3 separate regions of the Homo sapiens genome follow, and all the other regions are linked to region 3. Evidence: fine-mapped expression QTL. A gene starts in region 3. Each other region holds a variant in brackets. All regions are shown on one strand. Distances are between the middles of the regions.

Region 1 (10,587 bases), 63 kb after region 3:
CCCAGAAGTGGAAAAACCTGGAGTGTGTTTAATAGTGTTAATTGCAATTGCCTTTGATGGAGGAGTGGGGAAAGCAAATGCTGGGAAGATGGACTGGGATCATGGGGAACAGAAGTGACAACTTGTGATAAGTACTGTATGTTTCCAACTCACAGTAGTCATCTTGTAAGTATTTTTTTGAATACATGAAATTTGTATTAGGTGGTATACAATTGGCCTAGTGCCTACAGTTGATCTGAATTTCCCTCTTGAGCAAATAGAGTTGTCATATATTTTAGTCCACCACTGATGCGTAAATAAGCACCTGCAGCAAAGAGAAAAAAGGAAATTTAAAATCCATTAGCAGATGTTTATGCAAAGGCAGCAAAGACCAGGAAGCTTTCAAAGGCAGGATAGGTGGTACATGTTAACTTTATTGGTGATTTTTTTTCTTAAAATTTGAAATGTTTATATGTTATATTATAAATCAGGAAGTAGGATAATTCAGAAATGGAGAAGAAAATTAGTGAATATTGAAATTAGAAACATCTGGGTAAATAGAATAATAGAGGTAGGTTTTGATTAAAAGTTGGAGGAAATAAGTTGGAAGTAAAGAATTAAGAGTGAATGAGTCATTGAATGGCTGAGCAGGAAAGTACATATCACCTGTGTGGAAGAAGCAAGTACTTTTGAATAAGACAGGCTTTGGGTTTTGAATCTTGGTCACCAATGACTAAATCTTGGTTATCCAATGACTAGATGACATTGGTTATGCAGTAACTTGGGCCTTACTGAACCTCAGTTACATTCAAATCATAAGGTTGCTGGGTTTAAATGAGACATGGAATTTAAATATTTAGTACTATCTCTGGTTCCTTGTGGTTCTCAATAAATAATGGTAACTTTCCACTGTTCCCTCCACTTTTCCTTCCCCCTCCCCACAGTAGCATAACTGCTATGCTTCTGGACTAAAGTTCAGTTAGAAAAACACAGTAAACTTTATTTCACTAAGTTAGAATTGGCTTGCTCTGTATCTACCCTGGTGTCTGGATGCCTTTTTCTATTTGATCTGAGTAAAGACCAAATTCCATCTGGAGTTTATAAAACATCTTTTACTTGTCATTTTCAAACAGATTTTTCTGCATGTGTCTACTAGATGGTTTGAAAGCTGTAAGGAGGAATAAAATGCTGTGAAAGAATTCCAAGGTGGTATGTAGATTTTCTGACTGTAGCAAACAGTTTTTTTATTATTAAAAGCACCAAAGTTTATTATCAAAATTATCAACTGTACTTTCCATAAAGATGGAATATTATGAGCTCAATTAATGTGCTCCATTACCTCACTATTACAAAATAAATCCAAAGTTCTTAGTATGACAATTAGATCTCTCCATCATTCATCTGAGGCTTCTGTTTCATCTTTATTATAGATATTTTTTCAAATTTATTATTTGCAAATTGCATTTTATATTCTTATTCAAACCTCACGACTTCCCACAACTCATTTATTAAGTAGTGAGGCTAGTAATTCAAACTTGGTCTCTGTGATTTAAAACTCTTGTTCTTTTTCCACACTGGAATGCTCTCCTTCTTGCCTTCTACCTGAAGCATCTTTTGTATTAGTTATTGTTCTATTTATCTTTCGTGTCCTGGCTCACATGATACCTTTTCAATGAAGCCTTCCTTGATGCTTCCAGTTGTATTTTAGTTCTCTTCCCTATACTTCCAAAGCTCTTTAGACCTTTATTATAGCCTAGTATCTAAGTTTGTTCTACTAGAGTTAATATTATGGCAGAGATAATAATTTATCCCCCTAAATATCCAAGTTCTCTTTTCTTTGATAGTATATAGAACTTCCAACTTTTAGCTATGCACAAACAATATTCTCAGCCTTTCTGATAGATAGCCATAGGACTAAGTTCTGGTCACTGGGATATAAGTGGAAGTGTCATGTGCACTGGGAAGTAAGTACTTAATGAGATAGTGATTGTCTGTCTTTATCCCTTGTTGCTGGCTGGCTGCAATGTGCTTGTCATCTCTGGAGCTCAGGCAACTGTACTGGGCTATGAATTAGAAGCTGTGTGCTAGAAGGGAAGAGGAATAAGAGAGAAGCTAAGGTCTCTGATAGGTTTAAAAATATCTCACCAATTTTAATCTACTAATAGATTGCTTTGGATTTCTTTTACATGTGAGATAAACTTCTATTTGTTTAAGGCATTGTTATTTTAGGGTTTCTATTATTTGCAGCTGAATGTAATTCTACCTGATATAATTGCTTTTATTCTTAGATAGTCTCTCTTTTCTAACCCAATGTTCCTTCCTCTTCCTCTTCCCACCGCTGTGAACTGCTTGAGGGGAAGAGTTGTGTTTCATTCATTTTTTACATGGGAATAAATATATATTAGAGGATTAGACACTTATTTATTTATTCAACCAATACATTACTAAATGTCAGGCACTGTGTTAGGTAGAAACAATTCAGACATGGTCCCTCTCCTGATAGAGCTCAAGAGGGAGACAGATTCTGAATAATCATTGTTAACAGTGGGTCTCAGTATTTGCTCCATGTCATCTTTACCTGGGAGTTTCAGAAGACTACTAAGACCCACATCCATTCCCCTAACCCCTAACAATTTAACTAGAAACTCAGGAGATGTGATCTGGGCATCTATGTTCTAAGAGCTTCCCAGTTGATTTTAATGTGCATTGAAGTTTGAGAACCATTGAATTAAACCAACAAGAAGGCACAGCAGTGACTTTAATCTAATTACTAATGGTAGCCAGAGAACACTAATAACTACCATGTGAGAACTGTGTTAGAGTCCTGGGGCTGACACCACAAATTACCACAAACTAGGTGGCTTAAAATAATATAAATCTATTCTCATACAGTTCTGGAGGCCAGATATCTGAAATGAAAGTGTCATTGGCATGACCATAGTCCTTTTGGAAACTCTAGGGTAGATTTCTTCCTTGCTTCTTCCAGCTTCTGATGGCTCCAGGTGTTCCTTGGTGTCCTTGGCTTGTGGCTACATTACTCCACCAATATTTGTCTCCATCTTCATAATGCTTCTTCCTCTTATATTAATCTTTCCTATCCCTTATAAGGACACTTCTCATTGAATTTAGGTCCCAACCAGGTAATCCTGGGTGATCTCTTTATCTCAAGATCCTCAACTTAAATCGGCAAATAACTTTTTTTTTTTCAAATAAGGTAACATTAAAAGATTCCAGGAATTAGGGTGTGGTCCTATCATTTAGGGGACCACTATTCTACCCATTAGAATTACCTCTTGTATATTGGGCACTAAAATAGCTTTCATGTGTTTATTCTTATTTAATTCTGTTGTGACTTTTGTTGTTGTGATTTTCCTCTAATTTGGTCTTGAGGTCTCTCTCTGGAGAGTGGCTATAAATTCTAGCTCTGCCCTGGTGGAAGTTCAGAGGAGGTGGTCATAGATGTTTACAGTGTGCTTTTCATGGGGGTCTGTCTTTATCCTGGAAGATGGCCTAATGTCTGTCAGATGCAAGATCAGGTGTCTCTCTCCCAGGAAGCCTGTTTATATTGAAAGATGCCTTGTAGTTCATGTTTGACCTAGGTCCAGTTTGTTCCCATCCAAGTAGCCACTCTGTAGGAAGAGCTCTGACCAGGGGAGTGAGGTTGGGGTGTATAGGTCAGGTCACAGGGGAGACAGTACAACAAAACACATGAAATGGCAGAAGCAGCACGTTATTGACAGATCTGTGAGAGAATAGGATTGCCCATGAGCGAAGTCCAGAGACAGCAGGATGGTCAGCCCGCAGGGAGGGGCGGGGGGTGGTGAAAGAGGGGAAAGAGAGAAAAAAAACCTGTGAGACTCTGCTTTTATTAAGATCTGTGGGCATTATCCCCTAGGCTCTCCTTCTGGAGTTGCGGGTTGGCTAGTTTAAAGAAAACATATGCAAAGCGAGAAACTGATTTATGTGACTCTGGTGTTGACCATCAGGCTTTTTAATGGTCAGTAGCTGTGGGCATGCTGGGTTTTGGGTCACTGGGATGAGGAACAAGGGGGCTGTTGTGGGAAGTCAGGGACCCCAAACGGAGGGACCAGCTGAAGCCATGGCAGAAGAATGTGGATTGTAAAGATTTCATGGACATTTATTAGTTCCCCAAATTAATACTTTTATAATTTCTTATGCCTGTCTTTCCTGCAGTCTCCAAACATAAATTGTGAAGATTTCATGGACACTTACCACTTCCCCAGTCAATACCCTTGTGATTTCCTATGCCTGTCTTTACTTTAATCTCTTAATCCTGTCAGCTGAGGAAGATGTATGTGGCCTCAGGACCATGTGATAATTGCATTAACTGCACAAATTGTAGAGCATGTGTGTTTGAACAATATGAAATCTGGGCACCTTGAAAAAAAGAACGGGATAACAGCAATTGTTCAGGGAATAAGAGAGATAACCTTAAACTCTGACTGCCAGTGAGCCAGGTGGAACAGAGCCGTATTTCTCTTCTTTCGGAAGCAAATGGGAGAAGTATCACTGAATTCTTTTTCTCAGCAAGGAACATCCCTGGGAAAGAGAATACGTGCCTGGGGGTATAGGCCTATAAACGGCCCCCCTTGGTGTCCCC[G/A]TCTCTTACGGATGAGGCTGTAGGGGTGAAATAGACCCCAGTCTCCCATAGCGCTCCCAGGCTTATTAGGAGGAGGAAATTCCTGTCTAATAAATTTTTGGTCAGACCAGTTACTCTCAAAACCCTGTCTCCTGATAAGATGTTATCAATGACAATGGTGCCCAAAACTTCATTAGCAATTTTAATTTTGCCCCGGTCCTGTGGTCCTGTGATCTCACCCTGCCTCCATTTGCCTTGTGATATTTTATTACCTTGTAAAGTACTTGATGTCTCTGACCCACACCTATTTGCACACTCCGTCCCCTTTTGAAAATCCCTAATAAAAACTTGCTGGTTTTTGCGGTTTATGGGGCATCATGGAACCTACCGACATGTGATGTCTTCCCTGGACGCCCAGCTTTAAAATTTCTCTCTTTTATACTCTGTCCCTTTATTTCTCAAGCCGGCCGATGCTTAAGCAAAATAGAAAAGAACCTACGTGAATATCGGGGCAGGTTCCCCGATAGGGGGCTGTGTCACAAACAGCCACACAGGAAGGGGAAGTTTTTTTTTTTTTTAAATTTTTTAAAACAATACTTTAAGTTCTAGGGTACATGTGCACAACGTGCAGGTTTGTTACATATGTATACATGTGCCATGTTGGTGTGCTGCACCCATTAACTCGTCATTTACATTAGGTATATCTCCTAATGCTATCCCTCCCCCCTCCCCCCACCCCACAACAGGCCCTGGTGTGTGATGTTCAGGAAGGGGAAATTTTAACAAGGCCAAAGGTGATAGGGTACTATTGGTTTTAAAATAACTACGTTGGTCCAAAAATGGATGCTGAGGTAGCAACCATACGAACAAATTTATGACAAATCCTAATGCTAGATCTATGAGGTAACAATATCCAAATTTTACAGATTTCAAAATACATACTATGTAACTCTGGCTTTTTGATAGAAGACAACTATGTTGGTATTGTTCTTGGGCCCAATTTTTGGTCTTCAAAATTATATCTACTATTAAAATCAATAGTGCTATTCATGGAAGTGTGATGTGACATACTGGGCAAAGATCAACCTAAAAAATGAATTTCTGGGTTAGTGCTGGTACTACCGCACAAAGTGGAAAGTCTTGATGCATTTTTTTTTTTTTTTTTGGTGAGTGGGGAAGGTCAATGGCAGTGTTGGAGATGGTGACATAATTAATTTTCCTTTAGTTATTGACATAATTCTAGATACTCCTAGGTATAGAAATATGTTTATTTTTGACTTAATGACTTTCTATTTCTGAAAAAGTGAATGAAAAGAAGATCACCATTTAATGTTTCTCCTATAGCTTGAGAGAATGAGAGAATGTTTCTGTAGTTTCACAGTGTCTGGTCTCTTCAATTCTTAAGGCAGGCTGAAAAACATCTGTTTTGATGCTGTAAGTTGTCTCATTATGATTTCTCACCAGCAATAAAAACTGTTTGCTTCACACTATATGCACCCAAATACGCAGTTTCCTGTAGATGTGGTTTATTTTCATTTTCCCTTTTAAATTTTAACTTCTAATAATAATTGATATTTTGTCAAAATCATGGGTTTTTGAGTCAGTCAGGCAGGTCTTACGTATATTTTAATCCTAGTCCAAACACTTTCTAAAGGGGAAAATGCTATCTACCTTGTAGAATTGTCATGAGAATTAAGTGAGACAACCTTGTACACGGTTGTCACTCAGTATGTGTTAGTTATCTTCCCTCCCTTTATTGACCTCTCCCAAGGCTGATTGGTAACAATGGCTAGATTTGGATTGCCAATAGAGACAATACTTTTTGCTTTCTAGATAAGAAGACCTTGATTATTTGCCTTAAGATCTATGATTCAATTTAGAAAGCATGCTGATACTAAGAAAAAATAGTTCTTTAAAAACGTATCTTACTAAATATCAAGACTGTAGACATTATTTTTACAACATGCTCTCAAAGAACTCCATTCTTTATTTTCTAAATTTAAATAATTCTTAGACATTCATAACAATGGCAAAGATCTATGAAACTTTAATCCAAGCATCTACTCACATGTAAGAAACCTAGAAAAAAATGTTATTTTCTTAAGTTCACAAATTTATTTCCTTAGAAAATCTTTGTCTCTTAGGAAATTGTACATATTTAGATGTACACAATAAATTATGTGGTTTGTTATTTTAGAAAAAGACCAGAATGGGTGGGAACTAATTAAGGAAGAGTCAGGTCTTTAAAATCATAAGCACCTGCACATATAAAACAACATACAAAGAATAAAAATAAATGCTCAGTACCTAATTAAAATTTATACTACCTAATTGTGCTTTAAACAGCACATAATTAAAACATGCATACATTTAGTAGGCTATTTTCTAAAAGTGAAATGCATTTCAAACAGGAAGTAAATAAAAACCTGCCTTATCTGGCCTGTTTTACCCAGGAAACTTCACCAAGGCTAAAACTTTTTAGTAATTAAAGTGCAATTAAATTGGATTTTAAACTCCATATCTTTTATTTTTAAAAAAAGACCACATGAAACTTTGATTTCTTTATCTGTTTATGAGCGGTTTAGAATAGATGGGCACTTTGGCTCTATGTTTCATGATGAACACTCTATTAAGGACAATGCTTCTTTCTCCCTAGGTTTTGGGTCTCTGACTGTATTTGCTGTCAGAGAAAATTTACCTAAGTATCCCAAAATGCCATAGGAGAAAATTGGCCTTAATGGGAATGTGAAATGTATCTTAATTTCTCTGTCATCTTTCTTTTTTATGCCCTTTTCTCTGTGCACACTTTTTTCTTTAGGTACTTGGTGCTCTGCTGCCCTCCAGCCCTTCTTGTCACTATGGGGAATAATTTACTAAGCCAGTGGTTTAAAACTGAGTTTCTCTGAAGGCTTCAGGCATGCCTTTGAGGGGTGAGGGGGTTGCTGATAGCGATGCACCATTAACCTGCTTCAATCAGAACAGTTCTGGTGGTGTCTGCTTTATTTTCCACAAGGCTTTGGAAGATTTTGTTCAAAGGAAAGTTTTAGCTGTTAAAGAGAAAGTTTGTAAGTTACAATAAGACTTTGACACCATTAAAAATTTTTCCAACATACAGAAAAGTTGAAATATTAATAGAGTTAACATTTGCATGCCTTCCATTGAGACTCCACAGTCGTTAACATTTTAGTCTGTCTGCAGAATCATTTCTGAGAAAATTGTCCTCCAAAACAGTGCAGATACATCTCCTAAAAATAAGGACATTCTGTCACATAGGTATAATACAATTGTTGCACCTAGAAATTTCACAACAATTCTCATGTATTAACTAACAGTAAATGTCGTGAGTAAAAATTTTGGGTTATGTCCCATTAGTCTAAAATAGCCGTCCCACAATTTTATTTTTCACATTTAATTATTTAGAAGACAAGACCAGTTATTTAGTGGAATGTCTGCATTTTGAGTTTGTTTGTTTGCTTCTCGTGGTGTCCTTTAATTGGTTTCTTTACCCCTGTATTTCCTATAAACTGTAGAATAGGTCTAAAGGCTCAAATAGATTCAATCAATCATTTTTGGCAAAGAGATTTTCACAAGATCCTGTATTGCATCAGGAGATGTAAAGTGACACTATTAGTGATACTAGGTTTGATTACTTAGTTAAGGTGGTAACTACAAGATTTCTCTATTGCAAAGGTAAATTTTCCCTTTCACAGCGGACAATCCTAAGAGTGAGACGTCCATAAAATGTGAATATCCCATTCCATCAACTTTCCTTCTGATGGTTTTAGCACCCACTGATAATCTTTTACTGAATTATTTTTTAAAATTACATTTCATTTTAAAAGGATCATTTCTTCTACTTTTAATACATCCCTTTTTTTCTGTAATAACATTTTAAACCATCAACTGGCAGTGAGTTATAGTTTAATTTTAACATGTGAGGTAAATGCTTACTTCTTTTCCCTTCAATCACCAGTTTTCAAGTTAAGGAGTTGAATAATTATTGCCTGCAATGATAGCAAGTGAGTGTCTTTTCCTTCTTTCTGCCTTCCCTCTCACCGTCCTTTCTTTCCTTCCCTATTTGCCCTCTTGCATTTTCTTTATAAGCATGATGATATTTTCAGGAATTTTTATTTATTCAATGCAATGCAACAAATTACAGTTACTAATTCTGGTGCCCAAGTCATCCCAAATGTGGCCAGTGGGAGCACCTTTAAACTGGCTCTTCTATCCATTTGATAGATTCCTAGCAGTTTTTGAATACTTCCTTGCTTTCTGACACCCACTGGCCCATGTTTTCACTTTGTACTTTCCATGTCTGAGACATAGAATCAGCCATTTCTCCAAGGAGAACTGGTCCCCACCCAATTTTAAAAACTATATATGTTTTTATATGTTACCCAGTATGTATTCTTTTGTATTTGAAGCAGGACAGGCCTCATGGGTATGTGGCTAGTGCAGTCACATAGGGACACATGTTCAAAAGGGCCCTGTGCTTGTGTGTTTGCAATCTCAAAATTCCTAATAATTCTCTCCTAGAATTTGTGTTTTGTAAGTGAAGTCTGATGGGACAATTGAGCATGCACTGGGGTTTGGAGTCTGGACTCATGCTGAGGCTCACTCCCTGCTGCCACTCTGGAATCAGAACTCAACTGTCTACTCTCCAGCCCTCTGTTGTCCTGGCAGCAGAGCCTCTTGGAGTGTGCCTGCCTGAGATCCATCTTGCTCTCTGCCCCTGACAAGGGAGGGTTCCTGTCCTGGGTGCAAGCCTTGCAGCATCTTGGGGCAGGGCATAGTGGCCACCCTCCCTGTTTCTTGCTAGCAGCACCACCATCGGCTGCACCTCTGTCGGAATGCTTCTGGAATCTTCTGCTCAATATTATGTTTGTGAGATTCGTCTATATTGTAGCACCTAGTTGATATTTGTTCATTTCCATTGCGTAAAGTATATTCCATTGTATGAATGTGCTATTCATCCATTTACCATTTTCTACATTACCTTGCTAATTTTAGCTCTTAAAGAAAAAGCCACTGTGGACATTCTTATATTTTCCAATGTAAAATTTGTTAGCTATATGTGTAGGAATGATATACAGGGTATGCATATATTCGACTTTATTGGATAACACCAAATAGTTTCCCAAAGTGGATGTAACAATTTATGTCTCTAAGAACAACATATGAATTCCTGTTTTGTTCCACTGTCTTACAACATTGATATTGTGAGTTTTTTATTGATGTTACATTGAGACTTGCTTGTGGTATTATTATTATTATTATTTTAACTTTCAGTTCTGGGATACATGTGCAGAACCTGCAGGTTTGTTACATAGGTATACATGTGCCATGGTGGTTTGATGCACCTATCAACCTGTTAACTAGGTTTTAAGCCCTGCTTGCATTAGCTATTTGTCCTGATGCTTTCCCTTCCCTCGTGGCCACCTCCCACCCCTGACAGGCCTTGGTGTGTGTTGTTCCCTCCCCTGTGTTCATGTGTTCTCATTGTTCCACTCCCACTTATGAGTGAGAATAGGCAGTGTTTGGTTTTCTGTTCCTCTGTTAGTTTGCTGAGGATGATGGCTTCCAGCTTCATCCATGTCCCTGCAAAGGACATGAACTCATTCCTTTTTGTGGCTGCATAGTATTCCATGGTGTATATGTGCCACATTTTCTTAATCCAGTCTATCACTGATGGGCATTTGGGTTGGTTCCATGTCTTTGCGATTGTGAATAGTGCTGCAATAAATATAAGCGTGCATGTATCTTTATAATAGAATAATTTATGTTCCTTTGGGTATATACCAAGTAATGGGATTACTGGGTCAAATGATATTTCTGGTTCTAGATCCTTGAGGAATCACCATACAGTTTCTCACAATGGTTGAACTAATTTACATTGCCACTAACAATGTAAAAACATTCCTATTTCTCCACATCCTCTCCAGCATCTGTTGTTTTCTGACTTTTTAATAATTGCCATTCTGACTGCTGTGAGATGATATCTCATTGTG
Region 2 (10,587 bases), 81 kb after region 3:
CCTTAGAATTTTCTGTATACATGATCATGTTATGTTTGAATAGATGTAGTTTTAATTTTTCCACTGTGATCGTATATATTTATTTATTGCCTTACTGCATTGTTTTGCATATTACATTGCATTCAGAACACTGTTGAGTAAGAACACTGTTGAGTAAGAACACTGAGAATGAGCATCCTTGCCTTCTTTCTGAACTTGAGTGAGAAATTATCTTTCACCATTTAGCATGAGGTTTTTTATAGGATTTTGTGAATTTTTTTTTATGAGGTTCAGGAAGTTCCATTATGTTTCTATTTACATAAGAATTTTTATCATGAATGGGTGAATGTGTATTGAATTGTATCAAGTGGTTTTTTTTTTTGTTGTTGTTGTTGTTTTTTTGACAAGGTCTCACTCTGTCATCCAGGCTGGAGTGCAGTGATGCAATAATTTGATCATAGCTTACTGCAGCCTTGAAATCTGGGCCTCACGCAATCCTCTTGCCTTCACCTGTTCCCAAGTAGCTGGGACACAGTCATGCACCACCATGCCTGGCTAATTTTTAAAATTTTTTGTAGAGATGGGTTTCTCTTTATGTTGCCAAGCCTGGCCTCAAAGTCTTGGGCTCAAGCAATCCACCCTGTTCGGCTTCCCAAAGTGATGAGATTGCAGGCATGAGTCACCACATCCAGCCTCAAATGCTTTTTTGTACTTTAATGAGATCATATATTTTTATTAATATGGTGAATGATACTGGTTATTTTTTACATTTTAAATTCACTTTGCATTCATCATATAAACCCCACTTGGTCATGGTGCATTACCCTTCTTATAAATTGCTGGACTTAATTTGCTTATACCGTGTTAAGGATTTTTGAATGTATGATTAGGAGACATATTGGTCTGTAGTTTTATTTTTTAATAATATCCTTGGTTTTAGTATCAGAGTAATGGTGACCACATACTATGAGGTATAAGTATTCACTCTTCCTTTATTCAGTATTTTTTTTTAAATGTTTGACAGAACTTAAGCTGCGTGGACTTAGAATTTTCTTTGTGGAATCGATCATCGTGGCAGACAGGAGGCAGGATTAGATTGCAGCTCTGACTCAGAGCAGCGTGCGGAGGCTCGCATTGTGAATTTTAGCTCCAGATAAACTTCAAGAACAAACCAGCAATCCTGAGAGGACCCACAGACCCTCTGAAAAAAGCGGACTGTTCCTGCAACACCCAGGAGACACCCCAAATACTGTGAGTGACCCAACTGCGGAAGCGGGAAAGGGAGATCCTCCTCTCCTGAACACACACCCCCACTGGAGAAACTGAAGGTCTGTTTGTGGGAGAGGTTTCTGACCTTACCTGGAGCTGAGTCAATTTAGAGGGCCAAGCAAAATACAGGGAGGAAGCAGCAGGTGGGATCTCGCTGGGTTCCCAAGCAAGTCATTCCTGCCTGGCACCACAGGGATCCTCTGGGAGGCAGCCAGAGGAGTAGGGGGAAATCACCACAGGGAAGAAGGTCTCCAGCTGAACTTTGTAACAATTTGAACTGGGCAAGAAGCTGAATCCGGTGTGCAACCTCCACAGGTGGGGGAGGAATCAAGCCCTTGTCTTTCGCAGCTGGGAGGCAGGTAGCCTGGGGCAAGTTCTCAAGACCAGCCTGCCCACTGCCTGGAAACAGACTCAGGGCTGTTGAGGGGGTCATGATGGGAGTGAGACCAGTTCTTTGATTTGCATGGGAGCTGGGGGGAGATCTGTGGCTGCTGATTATCCCCCATTTCCTTGACAATCTGCATGACTCAGCAGAGGCAGCCATAATCCTCCTAGGTACACAACTCCATTGACCAGGGAAGCTCACCCCAACCCCCACAGCATTCACAGCAAGACCCACACAAGGACAGTCTGAGCTCAGACACGCCTAACCCTGCCTCCACCTTCTGGGTCTTCCATATCCACCCTGGTAGCTGAAGACAAGGGGCACAGAATCTTGGGAGCTCTAAACTGTCTAGTTTGGAATAATTGCTTTTGCAAATTTTTTTTTGATTGAATAGTTACTGGGAGTGATTTTGTGGCAATACAAACTAAAAATGACATGGAAACTTTGCAGGGGCAGATTTTCCTAGAGAGGATCAAATGCTTTTTAAACAAAACATCTGTATTCATGGCACATTAGTGACAGGGCTTGAGAACCATGATTTCTTGAACTTAAGTTCTTTTAAAACCTATACCTTACTCAGAGACTAGAGAGAGAACATTCCTTCACAAAATATTTGCAGCCAATGGAAAGACTGGTGTATGACTGAAAACATTTATTCATAATTGAATATTTTTTTTTGAGACGGAGTTTCATTCTTGTCACCCAGGCTGGAGTGCAATGGTGCAATCCTGCCTCACTGCAACCTCTGCCTCCCAGGTTCAAGCGATTCTCCTGCCTCAGCCTTCTGAGTAGCTGGGATTACAGACATGCACCACCACACCTGGCTAATTTTTGTATTTTTATTAGATATGGGGTTTCACTATGTTGGCCAGGCTGGTCTTGAACTCCTGACCTCAGGTGATCTGCCTGCCTCGGCCTCCCAAAGTGTGGGGTTACAAGCATGAGCCACCGCACCCGGCCTTGAATGATGTTTTGATAATGAGACTGAAAATGATTTTACCAGCAAACCAATTAAGATAAATACACATTTATTACATATTAAACATATGGATGGTTCTAAAAAGAATATATATAAAAGACATATGCTTATTGCAAAATTGATGGGGGCAGAAAAACATACACATAAAAATTATGATATTTCCAGTTCAAAAGATATTAAGATAACCATATAGTCAAACCCCTCCTTTAAAAAATTACAGGTTACATAATTTACCAAGTGACAGAGTCAAAACTACATTGCTGGACTTCTCTCTCCAATTCCAGGCAGTTTCAAATTTACTGCCTATTACAGTATAAGATAATGTGCCAGAAAAGTCAGTTGAAGGCTACAGATTGTCAGGTAGTACTACACTTGTTCACAGGATGGGAAGGTCACCATAGGTCGGAGAAACTGGGAAGAGTTTCAATGGGAGCCAACGGCTTGAGCTGGATTAGTTGCAACTCCCCCATCACCCCTGGATGCTTACTCTGGTCAAATTTTTCCATTATCCTTCACTTTTACCTATAATTTACACTATATAAACATATACACCTATATATGCATAATTTATGCTTTCATATCTGTCTCCTCCTGTCCTCTAAAGAACATAAGTTTCACAAGAACGGTAATTTTTGTCTGTCATTTCACTGGTGTGTCTCCAGTGCCTAAAACTGTGCTTGATACTTGGTAGGGGCTTAATGAATATTTACTAAATGAATAAACCCATGAATGAGCACGGAAAATAGTTTCCTAGATTTAAGAATTTATTTATATGGAAAGTAATGAGAGACAATAGAGGCAGAAGAGGTGGAGGCTGGAATTCAAAGAACCTTGAATACTAATGGAAATAATTTGGTACTTATCTTACAATTAGTGGGTGTCATGAAGACAAAATTTTGCTGCTGGTTCTATGAACACATATGGGTTCACATTTATGAAATTATGGTATATTTATTTTATTATAATGAATACTTTTCTCTGAGGTTCTAGGTAATGTAGATGTTTATTTTAATTTTAAGATGTACTGGAAATATTATTTTGCCATGCTGTCCTGTTAAAACACTAGAAAAAAATCTCTGGAAGAGATGTTTTGCTTTGATTTTGTAGATGTATATGCATCCATTTGTAAGTGATTATTATGCACTTTGAATTAACTAATATTTTAGCAAAGTACAGAGTAAGTCCTGTTGTTACTTTTAATACATTTTGCAAAGGTTGCCTTCATGTCTCTGTGGGCCTCAGTCAATTCAAGTTAGAAATTACAAAATGTTTCAACAAGTCTTTCCTACAAAAAGCAATTCATATTTTAATTTTTTTCCTCAGTAAAGATTGTTTTCTACTGCATTTGGTTGCAGAAAGTCTTTAGTTTTATTGTATGATAAAAGCAATCAACAAGCAAATGCAAATACACTGGGAACATTTTGAGGATTTTAATTGTTTGGCTTTAACCTCACAATCTCTTTTTTCCCCATCTGGGGAAACTGGTAATATCCTTCTTTTAATTTCATTGTGTCTGGAGGATATTTTGGATTATTAATTTACAAAAGTTTTTGGCTGATCTCACATAGAACACAGATGCCAGAGGGATACACATTTTAAATAACCAATCCTAATTTTTTTTGTGATTTCTAAACCAATTATAACCCAAAGGAGCAAGAAAGGCCTATTTAAAATCTCAGTGGGCGATTGATACTTCAGGTTCAAGATGGCAGACTGAGCATGCATGTTTTCTTCCTGTGAGGCCCTGTTTTGTACAATCCAATGAAAAGCAAGGCCAACATAATGTGAATGGTGTATCCTTGACTTAGCCAGTATGTTGATCCTACTCAGCTTCCTCCCAAGATCTAGCTCCTTCCTAAGTTCCTATGGTCCTTTTGAAATTGTGTGTGTGTGCGTGTGTGTATTCTATAACAGTGCTGAAAAGCAAGAAAGGATTCTGTAAGTATACCAGATATTTTGCATAATTTTTAAGTTATAGACAGCAGGTAGGACCAGATTGATAAAGGAAATTATAATTTGAAATGGACACAGACAAAGGCAGAAGCCAGTTGCAACGGTGAGAACTGTTTTTACCACAGGAACTCCAAACAAACTCAGTATAGGGTCAGGTATAAATCAAGAAGGTCCTTGGGGCAATTACCAGGGTAATTGAGCAATAATTCTTTGTAGAGGAGCTCCATCTTTACTTAAAGCTACCAGTGGATGGGGTTTGTTCCAAGTCAAAACCCTGAGTAATTTTCTTTTAATGATGATCAAGACAGGAGGCACATAATGTATTAAGGCCAGAGAATAAAACAGAGTGAAGTTTAATAATAAGTCTTGTTCTCCACGGTGGTGTTTTCCTGTTTTATAAAATATGAAATCAGAATTATCCTTGAAATTCAGTTTTCAACTTCATAACTTTAGGAATAAAGTCAGCCCCTTAGTTTTATTTCTTGACATTGAATGTAGGCAATTGTGTAAGATTATCATTTTATATATTTTTCAAAGGCATAGTTGCACTGGAAATAAGTTACTTTAAAACATTTGGGCAACTTTTTTTGGACACACTGGAACAGTAATGTTAATGCATGCAGTCAAATAATAATATTATGAAAACAATCTTAATTTTAATCCTATTAATCTGTGTGACTTTGGGTGGTTTCTATTCTCACATGGATTTAAATGAGGCAAAGAGACATATTTTACATCAATAAAATATACTAACTACCAATAAGATGTAGCAGACTTAAATTTTTATTCATCAAGCAATATACAATTAAAATATAAAACACTCTTACATATACAATAAAAAGGAGACCCAGACA[A/G]GTAAAATATACATAAGGTTTTAGAGCATCTGATCAATAATTACTAAACTTGTTTAAATAAGTATATATGTAGATGATATACATTCTTTCAAACACCTATGGAACATGTATAGAAGTTGAACATATGTTAAGCCTCAAAGAAAATCTCAATATATTTCAAAAACTGGAAATTATTTAGGTCAAATTGATTGATCACAATATAGTAAAACTTAAAAGGGCAACCAAAGAAGATTAGAAAGTTAAATAGATATAAGAATACAGCAACAACAATGTTTTCAAATAGCTCCTGGTTAAAAGAAGAAACCACATTGAAATTATAAACTGTTTGGCAATAAGTCATAATAAAGAACAGACTATAGGAAATGCTGCCAAAGATGGTACTAAAAGGAAAATGTACATTAGAATAATATGTTAAAATGATAAAGAATGAAACTAACAAAAATGACCAATATGATAAGCCACAAATACTAGAAAGGAAAAAACTAATAAAGGTAACAAAGTCTTCATGCACAAAAACAAACAAACAAAACCATTACTATGAAAAGATCCATCAATTTGCCTCCACCCCACCTCCCACTCCCCAAAATTACAAACTTCTGGCAATTCCGAAAATGAAAAGAAAGAACCCACCACTCTCCTCTCCCTCCTTGGACTCACATATAATGCACAGCAGGGAGGAAACCACTGATCTGATTTCTATCAGCATAGGTTACTTTTGTATACTCTAGAATTGTATCTAAATGGAATTATACAGTATATACTTATTTTAAAAATGTATCCATATTGTATGTATCAATCACCAATTCCTTTCTATTGTTGAGTAGTTTTCCATTGTGTGACTATACCACAGTTTATCTATGCACCAGATGATGGCTCTAATTAACAAGCTGCTATCAACCTTTTTGTACAGGGCCTTTGGTGGACATATGTTTTCATTTCTTGCAGAGTCACAGGGTAGATTTATGTTTAACGTTTCTAATAAACTGCAAGACAGGTTTACAAAGAGGTTGTACTATTTTACATTCCACCAGCAATGTTTGTGAGTTCCAGTTGCTCTACATCCTCTCCAACATTTGTTTTCACTTTAGCTATTCTTGAGAGTGTAGTAGAAGTTACACTCTCAAGAGCAGCTGAAGTGAATTTTTAATTGGAAAATTTTACATTTCCATTTAATTGGAATTTTTAATTTGCATTTTCTGATGACTGATGATTTTAAACCTTTTTTCGTGTATTTATTGAAACTTTGAAAATCTTCCTTTGGGAAGTGCTAAAATGGTTTTGCATTTGTAACAATGGCAAATTTGGAATGGAAAGCAGAATGTAAATTAATTTTTAAAAGTACAGCTTAATTAAAGAGCCCTCGCTAATATTGACCTTGCTGTCTACCAGGCAATTAGGCACTCTTTCTTCCCTATGAAGTAAATACTATCATTTCCATTTTATTCATAAGAGACTTTTAACTATAACTTGATCAAAAGGGACATACCTAGGAACATTTTTAAAAAGCAAGTTAACATGAGCTCAACTTAATAAAATTGTTAATAACATTGTTTAATGAAAGCATTTAATAGGATCATATGTTTATATGACCCTAAAAGAGTTTAAGCTGTTTGAAATACTTTTATTTTCTGGTTTTATTCATCTAAGTTTGGTCTTATTTATAATTATTCATTTCTATAATTGAAACAAACAATAAGATTCTATTATATATAATAATATTTTGTTTTAAAGTACTTACTACACAATTCTGCTCTTGTAGAAATCATATTTCTGACTGAAGTTCCTATTTAAAATTTTACTAATTATATTACCAATAATATGAAAGAATCAAAACTCATATTACTAAAATATATACCATTATTGTTTAAAAAAACATAAAAATAATGAAGCAGAAGAAAATAAAATACTTTTAAAATTAAAGTCCATTTAAAGAACTAAAATAAAGAACATTAACTTTCTTTGGTAATCAGTGACATAAAAACACCCTGGGCCATGCTTTTGTGAGGATGATATATTAATCATAAGAAACGTTGCCTCAGCCTTGAACCAGAAGGCCCCTTTTTAATAAATTAGTTTTCTGGTGCCTTCTTCTGGATAAAGCAGGCCCAATGGAGAAATCTGTCTAGTGGGCATTAAACAAGTGGTGATGCAGAAGGCACTTTCTTTTATGTTCTGCCTAACTTTTAATCATCAGTCTAAAAGCTTTTTACAAAGCCATTGGATAGTCCCCCGTGGTTAACACAACTATATCAAAGTACAGTACTGTAAAATCTTTCTGAATAGTGCTGGGGTAAGAGGATGGGGACTGAGTCAGGAGCCCAGATATCCTGCTTACCTTCATTAGGATCTGGATAGCTGGATTCACGTTACCAAAACTGACCATGCCTTTCGTGAGTGTGTGTGTGTGTGTATGTGTGTGCCAGTGTGTGTGTGTGTGGTTCCTCTTGTTATACTTTCTGATGTGAGTGAGTACACTTTTTATCACTTTTTGGAGGCAGAGCTCTGTCTTCTCCTAATGACCTCAGGACACTAGTAACAATTATCCTTGACATTGGTATAAAACTCCAGATGTTTAAAAGCCATGTATATTTATGGATTTATGAGCACCTGCTTCCAGCCTTTTGAAGTCAATTTCAGATTTGAGGTAGGTGTCTGAGACCCGAAGAGTACATGGTTTGACCAACGCCATATTACCCAATAAAGTAGAATTACTGGGATTAGAAGCCAGGTATCCTCACTTTTTCCAAAACTGTACCAAGCCCTCAGTGTTAGACAGCCTCTTCTAGTTGAATGCTTTCGTCGTGTGTAGGTTTGGGATTGGAGAATTTATTTGGGAAAAGGCCATTTCTCTGAAGCATTCCAATTTTGTGAAGTACTAAAAAGTAAAATTTCTATCATAAATATACAGCAGGGTACAAAGTGTTTATACTTTTCAACTTATGTAATTTTTTTCTTTTACTTTTTTCTATTTTAACCTGCTAATCATTTAATTTTCATCTCACATCACCAAGATTGGGTAAGTTAGAAGACTAAAATGATACTTTCACATTAACATTTAGGATTTCCTTATTTTAACACAATTTTTGTAAAATTTAGGAAATTCTGAAGCATGAGGACACATAAAAGGAACGTAATGAGTTTTAAAGGTCTATAGATCTGGGTTCTGTCATTTATTAGCTGTTTCATTGTGAAGACATGATTTAACTTCTTTGACTCTTGTTTCTCTCACCTGTAAAATTAGAATAGTAATACCTGACTCAAACAATTGTCAGGATGTTTAAAAGCCATCATATAATTAAAACGTCTAGCATGGTGTGTAGCTTATAGGTTTTCAAGTAATGGTAGCTACTATTAGTATTGTTATTTTTGTTAAGTTGCTTTTAGCAAGGATTTTTTGTCAAGAACACATGCATTTGCATACATTAGAATATCTTTTAAGAGTACTTTGTCTTTGGGTATAATTTATTTGAACTCTTCAGAGTATATTTGAAACATAATTATTTCTTTATCAGATGAAGAATCTGAGGCACAAAGAGGTCAACTGGCTTGCCCAAGGGTACTTGGCAGGTAAGAATTAGGATAATGCTAAGTCTTCTCTTTCTTGGCCAATAGGTGTACACTGTCCCATATGTACTTCCATGTATGCCTATGGAAGAAAATGTCTACCAAATTGATTTTTTTACACATGTATTTTAGGTCTCAAAAACATCTTCTACCATATTGGAACAGAAAAAAATGAAGACAATGAGCATATCCTCTTACACATGACTTCTATTGAAATGTTTCCAAATCTTAAATGCTATAATATTTGCTTTGTTCCTTATCAACTTTTACAAACAAATCTTTAGAAACTGCTTTACAAAAATAATATATGTTCCCATTTATTTATATGTTCATTGCTTACCTCCATTCACTAGAATGTAAGCTCCATGATGGGAGAAATACTGTCAGCATATTTTCATTTCATTGTATATCCTTAATACTTTGAGTAATGAATAGATGAGTGAAACGTGTAGAATTTAGTAAGTATAAATATGCAAAAATAAAACTTTCAATTTAACGTACCCATTTTAAATACCGTATATAGTTTTTTTACAAAAATGTGATAATGCTGTTTTGTAATAAGTTCTTTTTTTAAATTTTAACAATATAAATGAACATTTTTGCATGTCAATAAATATTTGTCTTTTTAAATGTATGGGTAACATTTCCATATACAAATATGACATAATTTATTTTTTGTTGTTGGGCATTTACATTGTTTTCAGTTGCTCTATATTATAGGCAATGCTTCAGTCTTTGCATGTATCCATAACACTTCTCTTTGGCTACATTACTAGAAGTAGAGTTTGCATTTCATGGATTTTAATTACAAGAATTGCCAAGTTGTCTTCCAGAAAGATGCTGCTAATTTGTACAATAAGCAGCATTGTAGGAGAGGGTTCATTTTCCTGAACTTTAACCTCACTAATATTTTCTTTCATTATAATTCATATTGTTATTTTAAAATCTTCACAAATTTGGTAAAAGTGGGATCTTCTTTTATGATTTGCATTAATTTTATTGCAAATGAGCTTTTACTGTTTTCTTATGCTTATTATTTAATTTGTTTTATTAATTTTTCTCTTGGTACTCTTTCTTATTAAGCTATTAATAGGACAAAGTAGAAAATAACTATTTCTCAAATTCTTTTGATTCGTAAGACATCAATTAAAAAAAAAAGAAACCCAAACCAGCATGCCTACTTCATCCTGTGTTGTGAGACATGGCTATGTGTGTCTAGGGTATTCCAGTTTCCCGAAGCATAGTAAGTGGAAAGTGACTTGGTAAAACATAAAAACAGTAAGATGGATTAAAGCCAGACAATGGAAGAGTTAAACTTTATGCTAATGAGTTATGACTTGAATCAGCAGGCAGTTACTATGAAAGAATGTACAATTTAGCCATCCCAAGTTGTTATATCTTGATGAGTGAATAGCTTACTACTTTTGCAGCAATATGTAGTTTTTAAAGTAATTTTTCTGTTAACAGGAAGGGATAATTTGGACAGGGTAGTGGGAAAAAGATCAGCTTAAAGTTTTTCTTACCTTATCTAATTTCTCCCACCCAGAATTAATGCCACTCTCCTTTCTGTTCCCTTGGTACTTTCTTCCATTATAGCACTAGCC
Region 3 (10,587 bases):
TTCGGCAATGTATTGTTGGTTATCCTTTTATATGCATATTTCTTGTTAGAATGCATTCTTTAGAGACAAGGATTAAATCTTACATGTCAAAATATTTCATTCAGCATCAGGCACAGATCCTTGCACATAATAGATGTTCAGCAAATCAAAGGAGAGTTAAATCATCACATGACAGCATCCACTTAAAAGTACTTTGAAGATTATATTATGATTCAATGATTATTCATTGATAGTAGGCAGTGGCTATACTCTGTCCTAGATAATGATAGAGGGAGTATTCTTTTGATCCATTGTTTTCCTGTGAACAGAACCTATGTGCATTCTGAAATCACGAAACTATAAACAAACTTAAAATATTAAATAGCTACTTTTTTGTATATGTTAAGTTTTGGACTTTCCACTCATAAAGAACTATCAAATGAGATGAAAACTAACTACAACGAGCTTCTTTTATTTTTAAATGAGGTTTTTGCATATGTCCTGGCATCAAATATAGAGTCTATTGAATTGCTTGACTTTGATATTAGCTAGACAAACTGCCTGGCTCACTACAGCTATAAGCTTGTAGTAAGAATTGACTTAGATAGTATGAATAATATAAATTACTATTGAAACATAAGACAGAGTTTGATGCTGTACTATGCTGGTAACTGTTAACAACTGGTTTTCTAGAAAAAAAAGCTCTGATCTGTAGCATATGCTGATTTCAGTGATATAAATACTTCCATTATGAGCCATTTACAGTGATGTAAATACTTCCAAACTACCCACGTGAAGTTACTGAAATACACAGTTGGGAAGAGATGCTAACAATCAACTCTTCTGAATCTGTAAGAGCCAGCTCAGCACACTATGAGTTTGATAATAATTATTGTAATTAAAAATGTTTTTAAATGGACATTGACTGGGTGCCCAGGACTCTTCTAAATGCTTTATATACTGTATTTCATTTACTTTACCCAGCAATCTATGAGGTAGGTTCTATTTTTTAATTCCCATTTATGGGAAGCTGTGTCTCAGAAAAACTAAATAATTTGCTCATATTACACATCAAGGAATGAGTGGACTATAGATTCAAAAACTTAGTTTGATTCGACTCTACTCCTCCAACTACTATTCAATATTTCTTTCAGGATATAAAATTAAATTATGTTCAGCATAGTTTTCATGTTAAATGTATTTTTTATTTAATGTCAATATATGTAATTCCTTGAAAATTTTAAGTAAAAGATAGCTATATAAATTTGCCATGTCCAACTAAATATTTATGTGACTAAACTCAGGAAAAAACTACAAAAGGAGGAAGTAATCTAAGTATTTTAAGTTTATATGATTAAAAAAAGACATTTTGTCCTCTCAAAACCTTGAAAAGATTTTTACAAAAGTCTAATTGGAAAGAACTCGTAATTGTTTTTAAAAAAGGTGTTATTTGCAATTGCACGGATTCTAATAAAAAACAAACTCTTGCTTTATTTCAGCGACAGGGTTCTTAAATTGTTACTGAAATTTATTAGAGTATCAAATGGATGTTGTAAATAGTGGAACATTCCACCTGTTTTTCCAATACTTAGAGCTCAGGAAAAAGGTTATTTCTAATTAGCTAAGTAAGCAGAAAATATAATAACATAATAATGCGGAGAAATTTAGAAGTTAAAAAAAAGGTTAGCAAATAAAACTGTAGGGGTCTAAAGATGACTGTAAACTTTGGATCACTGCAGAAAACTTTCCTAAGTAAGACCTGCCACTATGCTTTAAGCAAACGAAGCAGCATATGGCCTAGACTGAAACTGCGAAGGGCTTTATACATTTAAGGGATGGCAAGAAGTTAAGTGCTGCAGGAAAGTAAGTTGTGTTGTGGGAGTAGATGTGGAAGCTGAAAAAAACAGTTTAGAACTGAACTATGAGGAACTTTCTATGTCAAATTAAAGTTTGTATTTTATTCTGAAGGGCATCAAAGGTTAAAAGAAGTTCTTAAGAAAGTAACAAAATGATTAATATTCTATTAAGAAAAAAACTTTTGTAATGGTATTGGGCAGAAGTTGAGAAGAGACTAGTAAAATGAAGACTGGTTTATTACAATATTCTCAGAAAGAGATAACGAGAGATTGAAATAAAGATGATACATTATGGATAAAAGGGGGATTAATTTCAGGGTCATATTTGATGTAAAATCAACAAGATTTGATGAATGTCTATGTAGGGGATGCATTTTGGGAAGTAGTAAAACAAAAAAAGAGAAAAAGTTAAGGATAATATAAGAGTTTTAGTTTAGGAGACTGGATAGATTATGATGTCATTAATGAACATTGAGGACAAAAAGGTGGTTTATAGTTTAAAGCATTTGCACATATGTTATCACATTTAAGATGTTATTTATGTTACAAATTACCATTATTGCGCTGATAAAAACTTAATCTTATATGCAAATAAATGTACACAGTATCCTGATTTTCTTATTTTCCCCTAGTGCTTATCATTGACTTGATGAAAAGTGCTATTTGTGTTATTTATAGCCATATTTATTTTAAATATTTTTAGTAAGTGATGATGTTTTCCTTTCTAACTGCTGTATTTAAATATTTTTGTTAGTGGTTCTTTTAACTGTTTGAAATATATTTTATTATCTTTCAGTTTGAAACAAACTTTTAGATTTAGCATATTTATTCACTTCTTACATGATTTATTAAAAGAAGTAAAAGGGAAAAACTGTCTTGTCATATTTCTGGTTCTACCATGAAACACAAATGATGCTAAAACCACTAATATTTGAAGTCCATTTTGAACTCCTATGGTGTTATAGCTCAGCATAGTTTTCATGTTAAATGTATTTCAACATGATTATAAAAGCAAGTCTCTAATGTATAAAACTAAAGCAAAATAACACAAAAACAAGAAACTTAAGGCACTTTCAAGACACCATGAATCCATTTGAGTTGGTAAATGAGTATTAACCATGGAGTCATTTCATTTCTTCTAATTAACTGAGGTACTTAGAGGCACTGGGGATACAAAAATTAATAAATCCTTGTCCTGATTAATGGAGCCTAGTGGAGGGGACATATAAACAACTCAATACAATAAAGACATTTTAAGTGTTCTACAGTTAGAAATAAATTGCTATAGGAAACAGATGACGATGCAAGTAATTCTGCCCAGGGATTGGCTACAGCAGGGAGGAGGAAGAGAAGCTTTCACCGTAGAGGTAACTTTTGAGTAGGGCCATTTAAGGCTTAATAAGAATTTGCCAGGAGGAGAAATGAAGGGCTTTGAGAACATACATAAAAGAGCAAGAAAATAAACATTCTGGTGTAGGCAGCATGGGGGCAAATTGTTTAAAAAAAAAAAAAGAAGCTGAAAGAGTTAAGTAGGACCTAGTAGTGAGGATGTGACATACTATGCTTAAGGACATTAGACTTGATATTGATATTGAGTAAATTTCTGATTTAACTCTAATAGGAGATTGTGTCATATCTTCAGTATGGGGTTTATCTCATGAACTCATTAATCCTTTTATTCATTCAGAGTTGAACTATAAGAAGACACCACGCTAAAAGAAATCAGATAGATGCTGTCTTTAAAGCTCAGTTTACTGTTACTAAGGAAGGTAAGAACTTCAAAGGAAGGGTTGGGTAAAGTGATATAGAAAAATATGACATTTGAAATGGGCTTTGAGGCATCAGTAAGATTCAGACAAGTCTTATTTATATTTTGATTATGATGAGTTGAAGACATAATTTTTTGCATTTCTCACTTATAACTGGTTCATTTTCTAGGTGGCATTTAAAAAAACAAAGGAAAAAACCCACATAAATAGTGGTTTCAATAGCCATTGTTTGAAATGGCAGTGGCCATTAGTATAATGTTTAAATAAGTAAATGCAAGAAAAGACTCTTTTTTTGGTCTTTATGGCTGTAAGTTTCTTCAGGATGGAGAAAATAACTATACATTTCTGTATCTTGGAGTCAAACAATTGTTGAGTTACATGTAATACTTCTGGGTTTTATTTGAATTTTAATCCTTAAACAATGTAGAGTTGTTAAATAATGATGTGATGGAGATATAAAAAATAATGTGCTCTTGGGCAAACTAGCAAGATGAAGAAATAATCAAATATCAAGTTACAGATCAATCTAGACTAGAAATCACAATCAATGGCATTTACTTTACAGATTTAAAAAGTCTTGGTCCTAATATCACACTAGCGCACCAATTATATACACCTTAGCTATACAAGTCACCCCTTATGGGCTAAAACAGAATGGATTAGAAAAGAATATAGATTTGTGGAAAATCTGGGATAGAAAAGCAATAGAACATAAGATACACAGAAGTAGAACTTGGAGAATTCACTGATGTGGAATCTGAACCACTGCCACATTCTTATTTATAGTGTTAATGAAGTGCTTCTGCTGCAAGGCTTTCTACAAACTTAAGTAAACATTTCTCTAGAGGAATTTACACTGAAGTAATCACAATGTATCTAAGAGTATTTAAAAAACATGAAACTGGTGAACATCTTATTACCTAAAGTAGAAGGCTAGTTATATATTGCCATCTATGCCATGGGAGGGTTCTGAAGTTAGGATTCTGGTTGCATGTTATTGTAGTTATTATAAATTTTAGCATAAAATGTAATATAAAACATACCAAGCTTGAAACAACCACCAAGGGAATCGAGGTGTTTATTACTGAGCACCAGTTACATGTTTCTTAAGAAACATGTATATAATAATAATAAACATTTTGAAAAACATTTTCTTCTTAATGATTATAGAATTCACAAAAACCAGAATTGACTGGAAATCATAAATGATTCTCAAAGCAGGAAAAAAAAAAACAAGAAATAGCGTCTAAAAATTTGTTAGTAGGTATGAGTCAGACCTGTATTATTATGTTTACACTAAATGGGGTAGTTCAAACATATAATATTTTATCTCTAAATAATTTTATCCACAATATTTGAGAAGAAATCCCCACAGCACATAGTAAACTATTTTTTTTTTAGTCTTAAGTGAAGAATAATAATTATCCGGATAATAATTTCCACACATTTTTTCCTCAGATAGACTGGTAAGTACTGGTGGCTTTTTTCCCCCAAACACACTTTATTAGTGAAGTGGAAATATTAATATGATCTTAAGTGACGCTGGAAGGATTAAAAAGTTTTTCCATACACAGAGAGATTTGGTCTGGTGCTGACAGAACTACACGATTTTACTGGAGAGTCACTCGAGCCGTTGTGGAGATGCCGTTTCTGAGGTAAACAAAATTTTAGAATTTAGAAAATAAAGTTGTTACCATTCACAAATTTTTTTTTTTTAAGTGAGAGGTTCTAACTTTTCCCCTTCGTTCTACCACAGGGAAAAAAGCATTTAGACTCTCTACAGTCGTGGCATTAGAAAAAGGCGCTAAAAATAGACAATGTAACGGCCCAGGGTGCTCCGACCTTCAGTGGTGAGACAACCGGGGCGCGTGGGTGGGGGCAGGGAGAGGAGGGACTGAGGGAGGCGGGGCGGGGCTGAGGCTGGGGCTGTGGAGGGGCGGATTCGGGGTGGGGCAAACCCTGAGATTAGGCTAAGGCCAGGTCTTGAGGGGCGGGTCAGGGGCGTGACCAGAGCGGCCCGGAACCGCCTATTAAGGGATTGGAGCCCCGCCGGGACTCGGACAGATCCTTTCCATTCGCTGTCATGTCTCTCCCTCAGCCCACGCCGCGGATGGCCGAGCTCAGAAAGCCTACCTCCTCTTTAACGCCTCCTGAGGACCCGGATTCCCAACCACCTAGTAGCAAGCGGCTCTGTCTTGAGGAGCCTGGAGGTGTCTTTAAGGCGGGCTGGCGACTGCCTCTGGTGCCTCGCTTGTCTGAGGCGGAAAAAGTCTGGGAGTTGTCCCCTAGACCCTTCAAGGGACTCCTTGTTTCAACGAATGCTATTTTCGATAACTCCACAGACTCGTGTGTGGAGAAATCAGTCAGTGGGAAGCAGATATGTAATCTGAAATGCTCAAATCTCAAATTCCAAATGAGTAGCTGTTTGCAGTCTCCCCCCTCACAAAGTCCTGATTCTGATTTGAGGGCTTCAGGAAGGTCTGAGGCAGGCCTGCATGACAGAGAGGCTTTCAGTGTGCACCGCAGTAATAGCTCCAAAGCAGGGGTTAGTCAACTTCTGCCCAGCACCTCTATACACGATATACATGGAATTAGAAATGAGAATCGAAAACAACAGTTTGTCCAAGGAAGAGACAATGTTCACAAAGAAAATCCATTTTTAGATGTTACCTTTTACAAGGAAACTAAATCACCATTTCATGAAATTAAGAACAGATGTAAAGCTAACAGTGTTGTGCCATCAAATAAAAGAGAAAATAACATTTCATCATCTGTACTAAAAATATCAAAATCTCAAAACCAGCCCAGCTTGGAAATTGCCAAACCTAGCTATTTTAGAGATAGCGGCACAATAAGTGTCCCTCAGTTTCCAATGGACTTAAATAGCAAAATGTCCTCTGTCTATTTAAAGGAAATAGCGAAGAAAAAGAATGACAAAAAAGAGGCATATGTTAGGGATTTCACAAACATTTACTGGTCCCAAAATAGACCTGATGTTAAGAAGCAAAAGTTACAGAATGATAAAAAAACTGTAGAAGCGGAAAACATTTTTTCCAAATGTTATGAAAATGACTACCCATCACTCAGTAGCCAAAATACTTGTAAGAGAAAAGACTTGATCAGTTCAAACTACTGTAACTGCAGTAGTATCCAGTGTAATGTAAGAGACTCTAGAAAGAATTTCGCTATACTAGAAAATGCAAATTGGGAGGAAGCAGAATGTCTGGACAGTTACGTACTTACCAGGCTGGAAAAATCTCAAAACTGGGACTGTAACGTTAGACATATTTTGAGAAGAAATAGAGGAAATTGTTGGATTATAAATAATTGCAAGACTAAATGTGAAAATATGAAAAAAACTGAAGAAAAATGGAATTGGCTATTATTATTAGAAATAGACCTTTTAAGCAAGGAAGATTACCACTGTGCAAAAGTCATCAATGCATATGAAGAACAATCAAAGCTTCTCGTAAGAGAAATATTAGGTAGTCAGACAGCTTTAATAACGACTGTTTGGCTAAATGGTAAAGGAGAAAATGATAATACTCTACAGTTGAGATACAATACTACACAAAAAGTCTTTCATGTGAACAACCCTTTTGAAAGTTTCATTATAGAAATTTTTTATTTCCATAAAAGTATTTCAGGAAATAAAAAAGATAATAGTATTTTAACCTGCTGTAACATTTTGAAGTGTAAAAAGCAAATTGGTATAATTGGTATTCAAAATCTAATAACCAGAAACATGAATACAAATATAAAGAATGGAATTTTAAGCATATATTTACAAGATAGTGTTTCAGAACCTTTAGATATTCTATTGAAAACTAACATAGCTTTTTTGCTCAATAACTTTGACTCTTTAACAAGAATTGAAAATGATTTTGAATTAGAAGAGGAATGCATTTTCAAGTGCATGCTTTATTTGAAGTATCCAAAAAATATAGTGGAAAATCATACTGCATATCTAGTAAAGATTTTAACTTCTTCAAGACTATTAGAAGATAATATGAAACCTATGTTAAAGAAAAGGAAGTTATTTAGAACTGAACAAGTTTTTGAAAAGTCTAAGAAAAAACTCATTAATTCCTTCAGTATGACAACTCAAAATACAGGTTTTCCGATTTTTGAAACATATGAAAAAATTCCCCTTTTAATGGACTTTGATGACATGGATGAAATTTCTTTAATAAGAGAAATTACTTGTCAGAATATGAGTTGTCCTCAACAAGTTGTGAATGTGGAAAATTGGGCTCACTATAATTCTAGTACTGTTAAAGCACATGGTAATTCTTGTCCTCAATTTATACAGAACAACCGAGGATACATTAATGAAAATTTTTATGAAGTAAATATGCACAGCCAAGATTTAAATATGGAAAGAAAACAGGGACATAATAAGATCAGTAACTTTGACTGTGAGCACATATTTGAAGATCTCTGCAATGTTAGGCAACAGGCCATACCAGCAAGCCACAACATAATACATAATGAAGAGACCCATACCACTTCTATAACTCAAGTACTAAATTTTTGGAACTTGCTAAGTGAAATAGAAGAAAAAAAATATGACTTAATTTTGAAAGAGGAAGTAAAAGTCACAGCTGAAAGTTTAACAAATAGTTGCCAAGTTCACAAAGATACTAAGATAGAAAAGGAAGAGAAAGATAGTTTTTTTCCAATGGATGACATGTTTTCTGTACAGTCAGTTTCATTAATAAGTAAGGAAGTAAATGTGGAAGAAAATAAATATGTTAATCAAAATTATGTAACAAATACAAATGAATATGAGAGTATTTTGCCAGAAAGGGAGATAGCTAATTCAAAGGATTTTCACAGAAAGAATGACTCTGCATTATATATTAATCATCAATTTGAAACTGGTCTGAGTGAAGGGAATGATGAATGTTTTCAGGACTTAGCTGCTAAATATTTATCAACAGAAGCTCTGACAATAGTAAAAGATTTTGAGATGAAGAGAAAATTTGACTTAGTACTTGAAGAACTTCGTATGTTTCATGAAATTAGTAGGGAAAATGAACTTCTAAGCACTGTGGAAACAAACAATGGGCAAGAAAATTACTTTGGAGAAAATGATGCTGAGAAGGTAAAAATGGAGATAGAAAAAGATTTGAAAATGGTTGTGGTCAACAAAATACGTGCATCTTCCTCGTTCCATGATACTATAGCAGGTCCTAATATGGGCAAAAGTCACCAAAGTTTATTTAAATGGAAAACTGTACCCAATAATGGAGAACAGGAAGTTCCTAATGAGAGTTGTTATCCAAGTAGATCAGAGGAAGAATTACTTTACTCTACTTCTGAGAAAGGTATGAAATTCATTTTAGAACATTATTTCTCATGCTAGAAAAATTACTGCTTTTTTCTGTGTAGGCCAAATGTATAATTTTGACAACAAAGAAGGAAGGTAGAGATAAAATGCAAGACAATGTTTATTGATGCACACTATTTTCTTTCTTTTTTTTTTTTTCCAGCAAGAAGCCATAGCTTTATTTATGATAGAAACAATACAAATTTCAAAGCAAGCTGCAGTTACTCCTTGGAAACACCAAGAAAAAAAAAAAAGGTGTTTTCATACAGTTACATTGTTAATTCCACAATAGCATTTACCACATATCATTACTTGTACTTCAGGGCTCAGACTGCCTTTGCTCTCGACACATTTGCTTCTGGCATGACCAATTCTATGTCCTTAACTTCTTTTTTTTGAGACAGAGTCGAGCTCTGTGGCCCAGGCTGGAGTGCAGTGGCACAATCTCGGCTCACTGTAACCTCTGCCTCCTGGGTTCAAGTGATTCTCCTGCCTTAGCCTCCAGAGTAGCTGGGATTACAGGCGACTGCCACGACACCCAGCTAATTTTTGTGTTTTTAGTAGAGATGGGGGCTTCACTGTGTTGGCCTGGCTGGTCTCGAACTCCTGACCTTGTGATCCACCCCCCCCGCCGCCCTCGGCCTCCCAAAATGCTAGGATTACAAGCGTGAGCCACCACGCCAGGCCTTATGTCCTTAACTTCTACACCTGTTTCATCAACCTCTTCCTCTTCACTCTCCTCTTGTACAGTTGGAGTCTGTGTGTTTTCTTGAATGTTTGAGACAGCTTCACCTTGAACTTTGACACAGCTTCACCTTGAAATTTGAATTTCTCAGCAGCTGCTAGCTGGGTGCACACTATTTTCTCATAAAGATGTATTCAAATGTTCAATAATATACTGAAGTTGAAGGAAACAAGTTAATTTTAAAAAGGAGCTTTGAAGAGTCCTACTTCATTTTTCTAAATATTAGGAGCCAACTGAAGGAAATATTTCTGAAAATATAATTTGTTTATACCATTAATATTTTATATAAAAGTTACTTTTTGCTGTAACATATCACTCTTTATTTTCAGATTGTGAAACACCTTTACCTAAAAGACCTGCTTTTCTCCCTGATGAATGTAAAGAAGAATTTAATTATTTATTGAGAGGAGGTAACATTGTGGTTACTTTTTAGGATAACTTCTAAGATGATTATTGCATTATGGTATTTTTAGTATGAGGAAAGTATAGATATTCATGTTGTTCAAAATAAATACAAAGTTTTAGCACCTTTTAAGAGCATTAATATTATACTGATAAATTCTAATAATTAAAAATTTGGTAACAGTTAAAATGCTATTTAGAATATTATTGGGAAATGCACTCTGCAAAACTACGTTCAGATATTTGTATTGATGTATTAAAGTGACTATATGTTAAGTGTTGCATATGCCTAGTTTACACATCTAATAGAGATGTGTAATAGGGACCATGCTCTCTGATAGAGAGCATGCTCTATGCTTCTCATTGTTATGAAGCTTTTATGTGGACATTTTATTATGTGAATAAAAAATATTTGCCATTTAGTCATGTCAACATGATTTTTGACTGATGTTTATACTTTCGATTACATTAAAAATACAACTAGGCCAGGCACGGTGGCTCACG

Alleles and levels. Positions count from the first base shown, and alleles are read on the strand shown. Sizes are in standard deviations (SD) of each study's normalised expression.
With allele A in place of G in region 1, the expression in pancreas of the gene that starts at base 5,663 in region 3 is higher (small effect, 0.35 SD a copy in GTEx).
With allele G in place of A in region 2, the expression in cerebral cortex of the gene that starts at base 5,663 in region 3 is lower (small effect, 0.35 SD a copy in GTEx).

Evidence for each region. PIP is the estimated chance that this variant, and not a neighbour inherited with it, causes the effect.
Region 1: its variant is the best candidate, but not a certain one, in a credible set for the expression of RAD51AP2 in pancreas (GTEx, PIP 0.59).
Region 2: its variant is the best candidate, but not a certain one, in a credible set for the expression of RAD51AP2 in cerebral cortex (GTEx, PIP 0.63).

Annotation. Positions count from the first base shown.
Region 1 is chr2:17,450,988-17,461,574 of GRCh38, reverse strand. No RefSeq gene overlaps it. Among named protein-coding and RNA genes, the nearest start is that of RAD51AP2, 62 kb to the left of the region's middle. The variant G/A (reference allele first, on the strand shown) is at 4,601.
Region 2 is chr2:17,432,491-17,443,077 of GRCh38, reverse strand. LOC105373448 (a long non-coding RNA gene) reads left to right here and starts at 1,150. Exons shown (of 3, transcript XR_939759.2): 1 at 1,150-1,230; 2 at 8,932-8,986; 3 at 9,116-9,492. The variant A/G (reference allele first, on the strand shown) is at 5,420.
Region 3 is chr2:17,513,516-17,524,102 of GRCh38, reverse strand. RAD51AP2 (RAD51 associated protein 2) reads left to right here and starts at 5,663. Exons shown (of 3, transcript NM_001099218.3): 1 at 5,663-8,934; 2 at 10,011-10,091. The coding sequence starts at 5,688. It also overlaps the pseudogene LOC101928149. RefSeq lists a silencer at 5,391-5,640 and enhancers at 5,402-5,951, 4,936-6,135.